Linked DNA regions of Homo sapiens. The protein of the gene in region 2 purifies or fractionates together with the protein of the main gene of each other region. This does not show direct contact. Each region holds a gene or a part of one and is shown on either strand. Other genes may lie near its edges. The genes, in order: PDC, CYRIB and LANCL1.

What was found.
Region 1: the proteins of CYRIB (region 2) and PDC purify together in Homo sapiens (affinity purification with mass spectrometry; one large-scale study listed by BioGRID and IntAct). This does not show direct contact.
Region 3: the proteins of CYRIB (region 2) and LANCL1 purify together in Homo sapiens (affinity purification with western blotting; one study listed by BioGRID). This does not show direct contact.

The regions. Positions count from the first base shown.
Region 1 is NC_000001.11:186,458,165-186,462,608, reverse strand, and holds the start of PDC (phosducin), read left to right. Parts: upstream 1-1,494; 5' UTR 1,495-1,550; intron 1,551-4,444. UniProt on the Homo sapiens protein: May participate in the regulation of visual phototransduction or in the integration of photoreceptor metabolism. Inhibits the transcriptional activation activity of the cone-rod homeobox CRX.
Region 2 is NC_000008.11:129,842,241-129,845,629, reverse strand, and holds part of CYRIB (CYFIP-related Rac1 interactor B), read left to right. Parts: intron 1-3,389. UniProt on the Homo sapiens protein: Negatively regulates RAC1 signaling and RAC1-driven cytoskeletal remodeling. Regulates chemotaxis, cell migration and epithelial polarization by controlling the polarity, plasticity, duration and extent of protrusions.
Region 3 is NC_000002.12:210,438,704-210,442,358, forward strand, and holds part of LANCL1 (glutathione S-transferase LANCL1), read right to left. Parts: intron 2,741-3,655; coding exon 2,605-2,740; intron 2,042-2,604; coding exon 1,895-2,041; intron 1-1,894. UniProt on the Homo sapiens protein: Functions as a glutathione transferase. Catalyzes conjugation of the glutathione (GSH) to artificial substrates 1-chloro-2,4-dinitrobenzene (CDNB) and p-nitrophenyl acetate.

The DNA.
Region 1 (4,444 bases), on a different chromosome or scaffold from region 2:
TAAGTCTCTATGCTTGTGCCTATATTACATATTTGAACATATGAGTACCAAGCTATATTTGACAGTAACTTAAAACATATTTTTTGAATGTTAAAACCACTATGACATTTTTTATCATCAAACTGAAATATTAAATTTCTTCACATTTGCCATCAGAAGGCATCTTTTAAGTTACATTTGTATTGCACCTGACTACATTCTAGATTCTTTAGCTAGAGAGAAAACACTCAGTTCATAAAAACTGAAAGTGAATTGCCCTGAGAAACTCTGTTGAAAAGCATATGTATAGCACACAAACTGGAACATGAAACCTGCTAAATGGGAGGTAAAAATTTGATTTAAGGATGAAAATGAAAGTTAATTTAGAAAATACTTTGATTTCTGGAAGAATCTCTTTGAAAATATTTATGGTTGTGACTCTCTTAAATATTGTAAATTTTATGTACTCTTCTCTATTCTTGAAATCAAATTCTACAATAAAAAATATATAAGCAAACAAAGTTCTGAAATGTGACAGGTTTCCCTCTTACTAACAAAGAGTAAATAAATGACAAATTAATTTAGTATAATAAAACATAACTATTAAAATTTATTTAGACACTATCACTGTTTAAATTGCATTAAGATCCACTTAAAGTTTCTGGGTGAAGCTACATATGACTAAACCTTATAATTTAAAAATCTAAATGTGTTCATTTTAATTGCCATTAATATTAAAAATTTTGTCCTCTTGCTAATTAAAAATTTCCAGTTTTAAGCTTAGAGTAAATTAAATCTCCTACTTTGGCAAAGTTAGATGAGAATTTGGCTGTGAGGATGAAAGATGTTAGGAAAAGATGGAAGATTAAACACATGCATCTACTTCCCCTACATCTCAAAACTCCATTAAAAAACAGCAGGAAAGGAATTTTTAATGGTAAAAACCAGAAACAATAAGGAGAAGTGAAAAGGAGAAAATGCCAATAAAACTAGAATCCAGAAAGCAAGTAGATCTGTAAAGACAGCCCATCTGAAAAAATTGTATTAAAAGCCTGTAGTAAGAGAAGATGAAAATCATAGTATCTCTCTTATTCCTCCCAATGTTGTAGTAATCATAGCACTTCATTGTGATTATCTTTTTACTTACCTGTCTCCCCCACTAGACTGCAAGCCTCACGATATAGGAAATAGGGTTTATTTGTCTTTGTACCCTAGTGCCTAGCTACTGCTTGTTTCACACAAAGTAGGTGCTCAGTAGATGATTATGGGACTAATGAATACAACTCATGTTATTGCGATAAATAGTACTAATAATGACCTCTGTCTCTCATCTATTCAATGTGTTCTGTAAAATATAAACTGACTACTCTTTGTTTGGTTTTGCCTTATTATTAATGAACTGGCCTTGCTAATTCTGTCAATCCTATTACTTGTTCAGAGCTATTTCTGCAAGGGTCATCAATATCTGGAGATTTTAAATCTGAGCTTAAACCTATTGAAGTTCAAGACGAGTTCAGTAGACAGGGATTCTCACCCACTCAACAAGGACACCAGGCACAGAGATCCAAACTGTGAGTCCACAAGTAGTCCTTTTGATAATATAATTTTAAAAATTTTACCTTAGGGGAAAGAATGGTGATTCACTGTTTATGTATTATTGTGTTAATGTAAAATAGTTCAAAGTACATAAGGTTTTGAATTATCTACTATAAAGACAATTAAATACAGCGTATCCTTCTCTCTTTCAGTGATTTCCACCAGTCATCTTCACTAATACAGATTCAGAGTAAACACGCAATTTTGAGCCTGATATTCTAGACTGTTAAAATAAGACCATGAATGGAGAACTCATTTTGCAATTTTAAATTTCCTTTGAGTGAAGGGAGAACTAAAGAGAATAAATGATGAGTCCTTGCACTTTATGTTTGAAGATCTGGCTCCCAAGTTGGAAAAGGAGTGCGGTAGTTGCCCCTTATCCAAGGGGGATATGTTCCAGGACCCCCACTGGATGCCTAAAACCATAGATAAAACTGAACCTTGTGTGTATACTATGTTGTTTTCCTGAACATACATACCTGTGATAAAGTTTAATTTATAAATTAGACACAGTCAGAGGTTAACCATAATCACTAATAATAAAATAGAACCTTTATAACAATATGCTACCATCACAACACTTGCGCTTTGGGACCTTATTAAGTAAATAAGGGTTACTTGAACACAAGCACTGCAATAGTCAATCTGATAACCAAGACAGTAATGCATATGGTGTGGATATGGTATACAAAGAGATGTTTCATGTTCCAGGCCAGAGAGAGCAGGATAGTGTGAGATTTCATCAAGCTACTCAGTACACTGCAAATCTAAAACTTGCAAATTGTTTATCTCTGGAATTTTTCATCTAATATTTTTGGACCAAGGTTGACCAAGGGTAACTGTAATCACAGAAAGAAAAACCTCAGATAAGTGAGGACTGCTGTATTCATCCGGCGCTAAGGCATGTTTTGAGGCTTTTCCTTAGTAGTATGTTGTTGTGGCGGTGGTTTGTTGGTGGTTTTTAATTTTTAAAGTAGAAATAATGTTTGTTTTGAAAGGTTACTTTAGAAATTTAATGAAACAGAAATAATGTTTTTAAAAGAAAAGAACACAGAGTTTGTTGATATTTCTTAAATTCAGTGAAAATTTTCTTTCAATTGGTTTTTTTTTTTCTATTTTGTTTCCATGGAGGTTATTATTATTACTAATAAACCTTACAGTTTGCATCATGAAAATGAGTGCAGTAATTGATTTGCAATGGAGTATTTTTATTAACTGCAAAAATAGCTTCTAACTATAGAGTCCATTTTAAATATATATATATATATATATATATATATACACACACACACATATTGTCCATTGTACCTGCTACTTAGAATCACCTCATATTAAAGCTAGAAAAAACTTTAGAGATCATCTAATTCATCATGACAATTTCTGCCCAAATACTATGTTTATAAGTGGATTTGATATTATATAAGTCATTATCAAAATATATATGAACCATTCATAATAATGTCTGTAATGGAATTCAAACAATATGTACAGGAATATGTATATTTACAAGATAAACAGATACTTTAAAAAAGATGGCTGTTATGAATTTCTAAAATTCTATTTTCTCCAGAACAAGTAAAAGAATATCTGTATGTCTGCAATCCCGGCACCTCGGGAGGCCAAGGCTGGCGGATCACTCGCGGTTAGGGGCTGGAGACCCGGCCAACACAGCGAAACCCCGTCTCCACCAAAACCAGTCAGGCGTGGCGGCGCGTGCCTGCAATCGCAGGCACTCGGCAGGCTTAGAGCTTGTTAAAGATTCCTGGGTCCCACTTCAGATCTGCAAAGCAGGATCTTAGAATCTAGGGCCTGAAAAGGAGGAAGGGTCCTGGTAAATATCCCCAGGCTTTCTTTTTCTTTTTTTCTTTTTTTGAGTTGGAGTCTCATTCTGTCCCCCAGGCTGGAGTGCAGTGGCGAGATGTCGGCTCACTGCAACCTGCGCCTCCCAGGTTCAAGCGATTCTCCTGCGTCAGCCTCCGGAGTATCTGGGACTACAGGCACCCACCACCACGCCCGGTTAATTTTTGTACTTTTTGTAGAGATGGGGTTTTGCCATGTTGCCCAGGCTGGTCTTGAATTCCTGCGCTCAAGTGATCCACCTGCCTTGGCCTCTCAAAGCGTTGGGATTACAGGCGTGAGCCACCGCGCGCAGCCTCTCCAGGCTTTCAGCTGGGACCATGAAGGGCTCCACTCTTTGTGGTGATGATCAGAGGGGCGTATGCCCTCCATAACACTCCCATTCTTCATCTTTTCTCATATTCCAGGAGACTGGCCCAAACAGGACTGTTGAGTGGCTCTAAGGCTTTTAGACGTCAAAAGGGTTTATAAGAATAATCATCATAATATAGTTATGAATCAGAAACATGCATACATTTTCTTAAATGACCCTGTGGGGACTGGAGTTAAAAAGGGAGGAGTACCCAGATGCAGGCGTCTAGCAGAATGGACTTGCTTGAGAATATCAAGCAAGACAGCCAAAGAGGACTCCTAGGATTGTCTCACCAGGACTTCTGAGGCGACTCTAATGAAATGACTTAAAAGTGTGGTGGAGTGGCTTCTGTGGCTCCCACACCTGCCTAATCCTGGTTGATATTGCACAACCAGCGTGCACTGACAATCTCTGGGAAAAAAGCAAGGTCTAATATTCAAAGCTTGGCAAACATGACCAAGACTTTTTCTCTTTCCTTTGAATTATTTTAGTTCCCTAATTTTTTGTCCCAGATGCCACTTAATTCTTTTTATTTTGTATTAAAAGTTGTGCTCTTGTCTCAACCTTCTTTCTAAAAAAAAAAAAAAAAAAAAAAAAAGAATATCTGTATGTCATAATAGCAAACTTGGATAGGTGGATGTCTTTTCACTAGGAACAAGA
Region 2 (3,389 bases):
GAAAAAATGTTTAAAAATAGTTTTTAAAAGATTATGAAAAGTGTTGCATAAGCGGTAGCTGCCTGAATAAAGGTGATCTATTCTAAATGAACATCAGCAAGATTAAGGAACATAATTTAAAATCCTTATAATGTCAAACTATTTTAACCATAAGCCTAGTTTTTAGAATTCTGTATTCTTGGGGTTTTTACAACGCATACTTCAGTGGTTTTGCCAATATTTAATGATATCATGAGTCTTTCCTCCTTGGTTTCTTTCTGAATACTCCCTGTGTCTCAGTCAACCTGATTTTTCTCCCAAGACTTTGTCTTTCTGATTGGTCAGGCTCTTTGAAGCCAGCAAGTGGCAGGAAATCTTTTTTAAAAACTTGAAGGTAATTGAGATCTAGGAGGTTTTAGGATTCTTTCTTGAGCTTGAAGGTAGTATGCCTAACTCAGAATCTACGTTTCACTTTAAGGGTAGTTCAGTTTCCTTTTCCTTAGAATGAAAGCAGAGGAGACCAGTGATGGCGAGTGAAAGACAGGGTTGAAGTCTCCCACAAAGTAATCTGTGTTTGAGGGAGAGGGGAGGGAAGGAAAGCACCACGGAGGCAAGAGTCACCTGTCAGTTTGGTACATTTTCTTTCCTATTATAATAGATAATGGAAACTAGAAAATAAAATGTTGCTTTTAGAAACAACAAAATCAGGTCTGACTTGGGACTCAGGCACTTTCCTTTTAAACAAACACCCTAGCTGATGTAGATAATGCTGATACTTTGAAAAATATTTCTTAAAGGAAATCCATCTAGCCTTTAATATGTTTTACTGAGAGCACATGTTTAGAAAGCATTTTGTAACCCCAAAAGTACTACACGAGTGTTACACACCTCCACAAAATAGAACTTAAAGACCAAAAGATTTTAAATGAGAGAATAGTTCCATATGTATGTATATGTTTGTTTTGAATGCTTTCCTGTAGTAATTATTTATATAGAACTTCCTGTGCTACTAAGAGAAGGCATCAAGTCATATGTCCATTTTACAGGTGGAAAAATGGAACCAAATACATTTAATCATAAGAGGGAAAGAAAAAAAGAGAGCTGGGAGTTCAGATTCAGTAGTAGATAATTGTCTTCTTTATTAAATTTAAGAGTAAAGGTAAATAATAATTGGTTTTCTTTAGTAAAACAGTCGCACTTGGAAAAAAAATTTGTTTTTGTGCACAAAGGAAAATAATGCCATATATCTTCATGTTTTATTTTCACGTATATTAGATAATATTGGCCTTTTCTTGATAAGTGAGTGTGGTGATGCAGTGTGCTCTGGATTGGCTTTGTCCAAAGAAGGAAGCCAAGATCACATCCCACAGAAGGAGCGAGAACTTGCGTCATGGGTAGAGAGGAAAACACTTAGCACTCTTTGAATAGTACAGTACATTGCTGAGTAGTGATACTTTTAACTACTCTGCAGTAGAAATTTTACTGTGCACATTGCTTGGCTCTTTCTACTATTTAGTTGTATAAAGAAGTGGAGGAGAAACAAATGAAGAATTTTGAGAACTACGAGACATCTGTAGGATTTCGTGTAATTGCGTATACTTTATCTACATAAAGAGAACAAAAAGGTTAAATCCTTGTGACATCACTTAGCATTTAATGTCAATATTCCTTTATGGATTTTTTTTTCTTTCCAACCTGGCTGCTTATCTTGTCTTCCTTCCGCAAGTATTTATTGAGCACCATTTATGTGCCAGGCACGCTGATACCTATTCAAAAACATGAGAACAGTTTGGGAGTGACTTCTCAGTAACATTGTAGACAGTATATCAGGTACTTAATAAGCATTCTTCGGTTTTTAAATTAATTTGAAATGAACCTAATAGGAATTGGGTTTAAATTTCTTAAACACAGAAAGATCTATGTGGACCTGCTGAAAAGGATGTAGTCCTAGCTGGGCATGGTGACACACACCTGTCATCCCAGCTACTTGTGAGCCCAAGGCAGGAGGATTGCTTGAGCCCAGGAATTGAAGGCCAACCGGGGTAATATAGCCAGACCTTATCTCTAGAAAAAACGATCTAGTCCTTAAGATTATATGTGGAATTCTTGTGAACCAGATTTCTCTGTCTGGGTTATCTCCAAAATACAGTCCACATTCACGCATTGAACACCTGTCTCCATTGCTGCTGTAATCTGGCCCAAGCCTTGACATCTGATTATCTCACACTTGGTGCTCAGTAACAGCCCCCTTATTTAATGCCTCCCTGCTGCTCCTTCTGTTCTCCACAGCTTGCCCTCAACAGCCAGAATGATAAAACTTAAGTGGCAGCACACCCCTCTCCTGCTTAATATGCTCCACTGGCTTTTACTGCACTTAAAATAATCTCCAAACTCCTTACTATGTATGGCCTCTGGGTGTCCATGGGAGATGGTGTTTCCCTGTCTCTGTATGTAGCCTCTTCTTGTTATACTTCTCTCCTTTGCTGCTAGGCTTTACCCTGTCACTAATATTAGTGTATCATTATCTTTCTCCGTCTGCTAGGTTGTAAGCTCCTTGAACAGTGCCTGAGACATAGTAAGCTTGCTTAGTGGATTTTTACTGTTTAAGGGAATACTGTTGTGAATCTTTATAATAATCACTCTTTGTGATTCTTTTTTGGATTCTTATGTTGGATTTGCATGCATGTAGCAAAACACATGCCTAGAAATAAGGCACTTGGGAGAATTGAGACATTTTAGAGATATAACAGCTGTAGTAATTGAGGCATCTTAAATACAGAATAGAAAAGGGGTTGAAACACTTTTCTGTAAAGAGCCAGAGAGTAAGTAGATATTAAAGGCCTTGTGGGCCACATGGTTTCTGTTACAGCTCCTCACCTCTGCCACCATAACAAGAAAGTAACCATAGATGATACATGAATGAGTCAACTTGGTGTGTTTCAGTAAAACTTTTATATGTAAGCACTGAAATTTGAATTTCATAGAATTTCCACAATAACACATGAAATATTACTATTTCTTTTTTTGTCTTCCTTTGCCCCCCAGTCATCCAAAAGGTTAAAAAATAGAATTAGCTCACAGTCCACAAAAAAATTGGTGGATTGGATGGCCCATGGGCTATAATTTGCCAGCCTCTGGGATAGAACAGCATTTTCTTCTGAGGGAGAAGTTACAGCTAATTGTTTACTTGAGAGGTCAACCAATCATTTCAGCAGTGTAGTTGTAACTAAGTTAAATAGCTGCTAAATAGCTACTGGCTATTCAGTTAGAAAGGGGGTGAGGATGACAGGCTGTGCAGAACCTGAACAGGGTTAAAGCTACAATGAGAAGCCATAATTTTGTGAGTTTTGCTGAGACCAATTCTCCATCCTGTCATAATTAGAGAACCCGATGCTGATTATTTTTTAAGT
Region 3 (3,655 bases), on a different chromosome or scaffold from region 2:
CTCTAGATCAAGTCTTTTTGCAGAGGATTTAGGACTGATCTAAATGCCACATTATTTTGACATAACAACGTACAGATCCATAGGACATACTGACATACAGCATATGAGCCACCATTTTTGATACACATTTTAGTTTCTCCTTTTGGTCCTGTTCTTAATTCAATGACTGCTAATGTCTTTAACAGATTCAAAGTGCTGTTTCACTAGGCAAGGTGTGGGGCATGTGGTGGTGAGGGGTGGGCAGTGGTGTGAAGCACAGGCAGGAGGCGGTCGTGGTGGGGTCAAAGCAATGCTGACAATATGACTTCCACAAGATTCTGAAAGTGGACTGAGTTGTTTAGAAGGCAGATTTCATTTCATACAAAGAATAGCATTTAAGCTCAGAGTGTTACAGTAGAATGAGTGGACTCTCCTCAAACTTGCAGGAATTACCCAACATGGCCTAAAAATAATGATGTTTTATTTTATGTTGATGAAGGCGTACCTACTAGAATAGACTTTCAGGATTAAAAATTAAATCATTTCAAAGAGATGATAACCTGCAAATGGAAAAATCAATACTTGGGTTTTCAGATTTCTTACTACAGCTAACACAAGGAGGCAGAGTATGTCTCCTGATTATTTGTTTCAATGAAAGTTTGATGAGGCTGTCTAGTCACTAACCAACTATGTCTCCTGATTATTTGTTTCAATGAAATTTCGATAAGGCTGTCTAATCCTCTTTGGAGAGGGCCTCTAGTATGTTTGATTCTAACTAACCTTGAAACTTCAGAAGACTCTTCTTTCCTGAAAGCTTTTAGGAATCTACATTTACTACTGGGAATAGAGAGGAAGACATGCACCAGAAAAATAAAGAAATTTAAGTCTAAATGTCAACATCCTAATTATATAACCTCTAATTGAAAAGTGTAGAATAAATACGCTAGTCTCTGATTGCCACTAACACTCAATGTGTGACTCTGCATTCAAAAATAATAATAATCTTGAGTTTTTCAGTTCTGTTGTCCTTGTTTATTTATAGGTAGAGGGCAGGTCCAACACTGATCTTGTATTATAAGAGCCAGCTACTCAAAGAGCTGGTAGTATGTATATCCAAGCACTCCTGCTGAACACGTTAATGAAACACTTTTCTTTATGCCACAGTGTGCCTTGGGAAGGTGACAGGGGTACCTCTGCTGCCATTAAAAATCAATTTTCTTTGCCATGAATTCTTATTCAGAAGTGCCAGTTTCTCCTTAAGGAGAGCTTCGTAAGTCTCCCAAAATGATGCTCTCCTGAGAAGTCCTCTTCTGATCTCTCCCAAGTTATGTCTGCTGCAGTAAATTCTATCTGTCTTTAGTCTATTTGACTTTGGTTGATGTGCCCCAATAGTATTAGATCCCAAGAACTGTAGGGCAGAGCATATTCAGCTGTTTTTCAGGTAAGTAGAAGTCTCCTCAGCTTTGCTCTCTAAGTGAGCATTAGGCAACAAGTGCTCATTTGTTTTCTATTGATTTTGTTCTTATTCCTGGAATTTGTTGGAATCAGTTGTACCTTTTAATGTGGAATAATAGTTTTAATTCAAAGCACTGGCTGAAAGAGCAGAGCAGAGGCACTTCATACAGAATTATAAGTCAAAACACTTTAGTCTGCACAAGTGGCACTAAGTGGGCAAGCACGATCACCTGCAAATCAAACATCATTTTAAAACGCAGGGCCTTTAATGTTTATACACTTTTAAAGGCACCTTCGTAAACATTACTTTTGTTTGTCTAGGACAAGTAATTACAAGGAGAGTACTGTAATGCAGTGGTTGACAGAATGACAAACTAGAACTAGAATATCTGTTTTCTCACCCATGATAGTACATGGGTCAGGAAGGACATTTTAAAATTTCACCATAATCACTCCTTACCTGCATCAGGTAGTAATAAATTCCAGCCAGGCCATGAGCAGCCCCTACATAATATTCCTGGTACCATTCATACATCAGTGGAGACTTTGCCGTGAAGTTTCTCTTCCTAGCTAGGTTTTCTCCAGAGGTTAAAATTGTTTCACAAATCTACAGGGAGAAAACCAACCAAAATAACAAGTTAACTGAACAAAAATCTTCCTGGAGGAGGTAAAGACTTTTTTGCTAAGAGGTACTGGGGAACATGACAAATTAGACACCAGCTTATAGCCAGGGAAAGGCACAGTTTAATTCTCCATCAGAGAAGTGTGTGGGACTGTATTTAGCCTAGAAGGGGGAGGGCGTAGAGGATCTTGAGCTCTTTGCATTACAGTTTACAAGAGTTCGCCTGTCAAAGAAAAGCATAAACTCCTCTAGGCACCACCAAAGGAGATCCTCCATCTGGGAGGTGAAATTTGGCTCTAATCCTCTTTGGAGAGGGCCTCTAAATTCTGAAATGGAGCAGACTGGCCTTCGGACTCTTGAGACAGAAATGTTTCCAACAGCACTCCGTAGAAAGCTATTGGTTCTTGGACTGTGCCCAACCTTTAGAGGTCCAGATACACCTTCCTTTATATGGAATGTGCTAACTACAGAGACATAAACAATAGTTTAGGCAGATAGTAAGTAAATGGGATCCTAAAAAGGCTCCTAAAAACACAAAAACGTGGTACCTGCTGAATATGGCTTTGAGGAATCTTTTCCACTCCAAAGTTCTTATTGACAAAAAGAAGAGCATAGATGTAGCCTATTCGCCCATAGAGCATTTCATTTGGAGCATGAGGATCAATCTTATTTAGGTGAATTAGCCTAAAAATAAAAATACATGCCCCAAATAATTTGAAAGGAACCAGGTATTGGTGTATACTTAAAAATGGTACATTGAAAAAAATATACATGCACACAAAATATGTATTTATACATATATAATATCTATTTATAGAACAGTCACGGTTCACAGATTAGCCCTCCATTAAATTTCTTCACTTAACAATGGAACTGACAAATACATTCATAAAATGAAAGAATACAAATGTATGGCTGAGGCTATCTGAAATCTCCCTAGTTCCTCATGGAGGCAGGCCCTAAGGTGAGTATTTTAGCAGTTGGGGTCAAAGAAGCCAAGAACTGCTGGCTTTTAGGGCATTTAGCCCAGAGAAAGGACTAAGCCAACACTCAAATGGCCCATCATCTCCTTCCTTGGTTTATTTCTTAATGTGTCACCAGGCCTACTTGAAGTAGGTTTCATCTATCACAGTCAATAATACATGTACATTTTTTTTTTTTTTTGAGACAGTTTCGCTCTTCTTGCCCAGGCTGGAGTGCAATGGCGTGATCTCGGCTCACCGCAACCTCCGCCTCCCAGGTTTAAGTGATTCTCCTACCTCAGCCTCGCGAGGGGATGGGATTATAGGTACACACCACCACACCTGGCTAATTTTGTATTTTTAGTAGAGACGGGGTTTCTCCATGTTGGTCACGCTGGTCTCCAATTCCCGACCTCAGGTGATCAGCCTGCCTCAGCCTCCCAAAGTGCTGGGATTATAGGTGTGAGCCACTGCAACTGGCCAATACATGCAAATATTAATAGTACAAGAGGTGTCAGTCAGGTCTCCATCTCCTCAGTCTCCCAGCCTTCTAGTTCTCCTCAGAAATCACCATGGTTACCATTTTTTTGTGTGTATTCCTAGATTTTATGTACACATAAGCATAAATATACATATG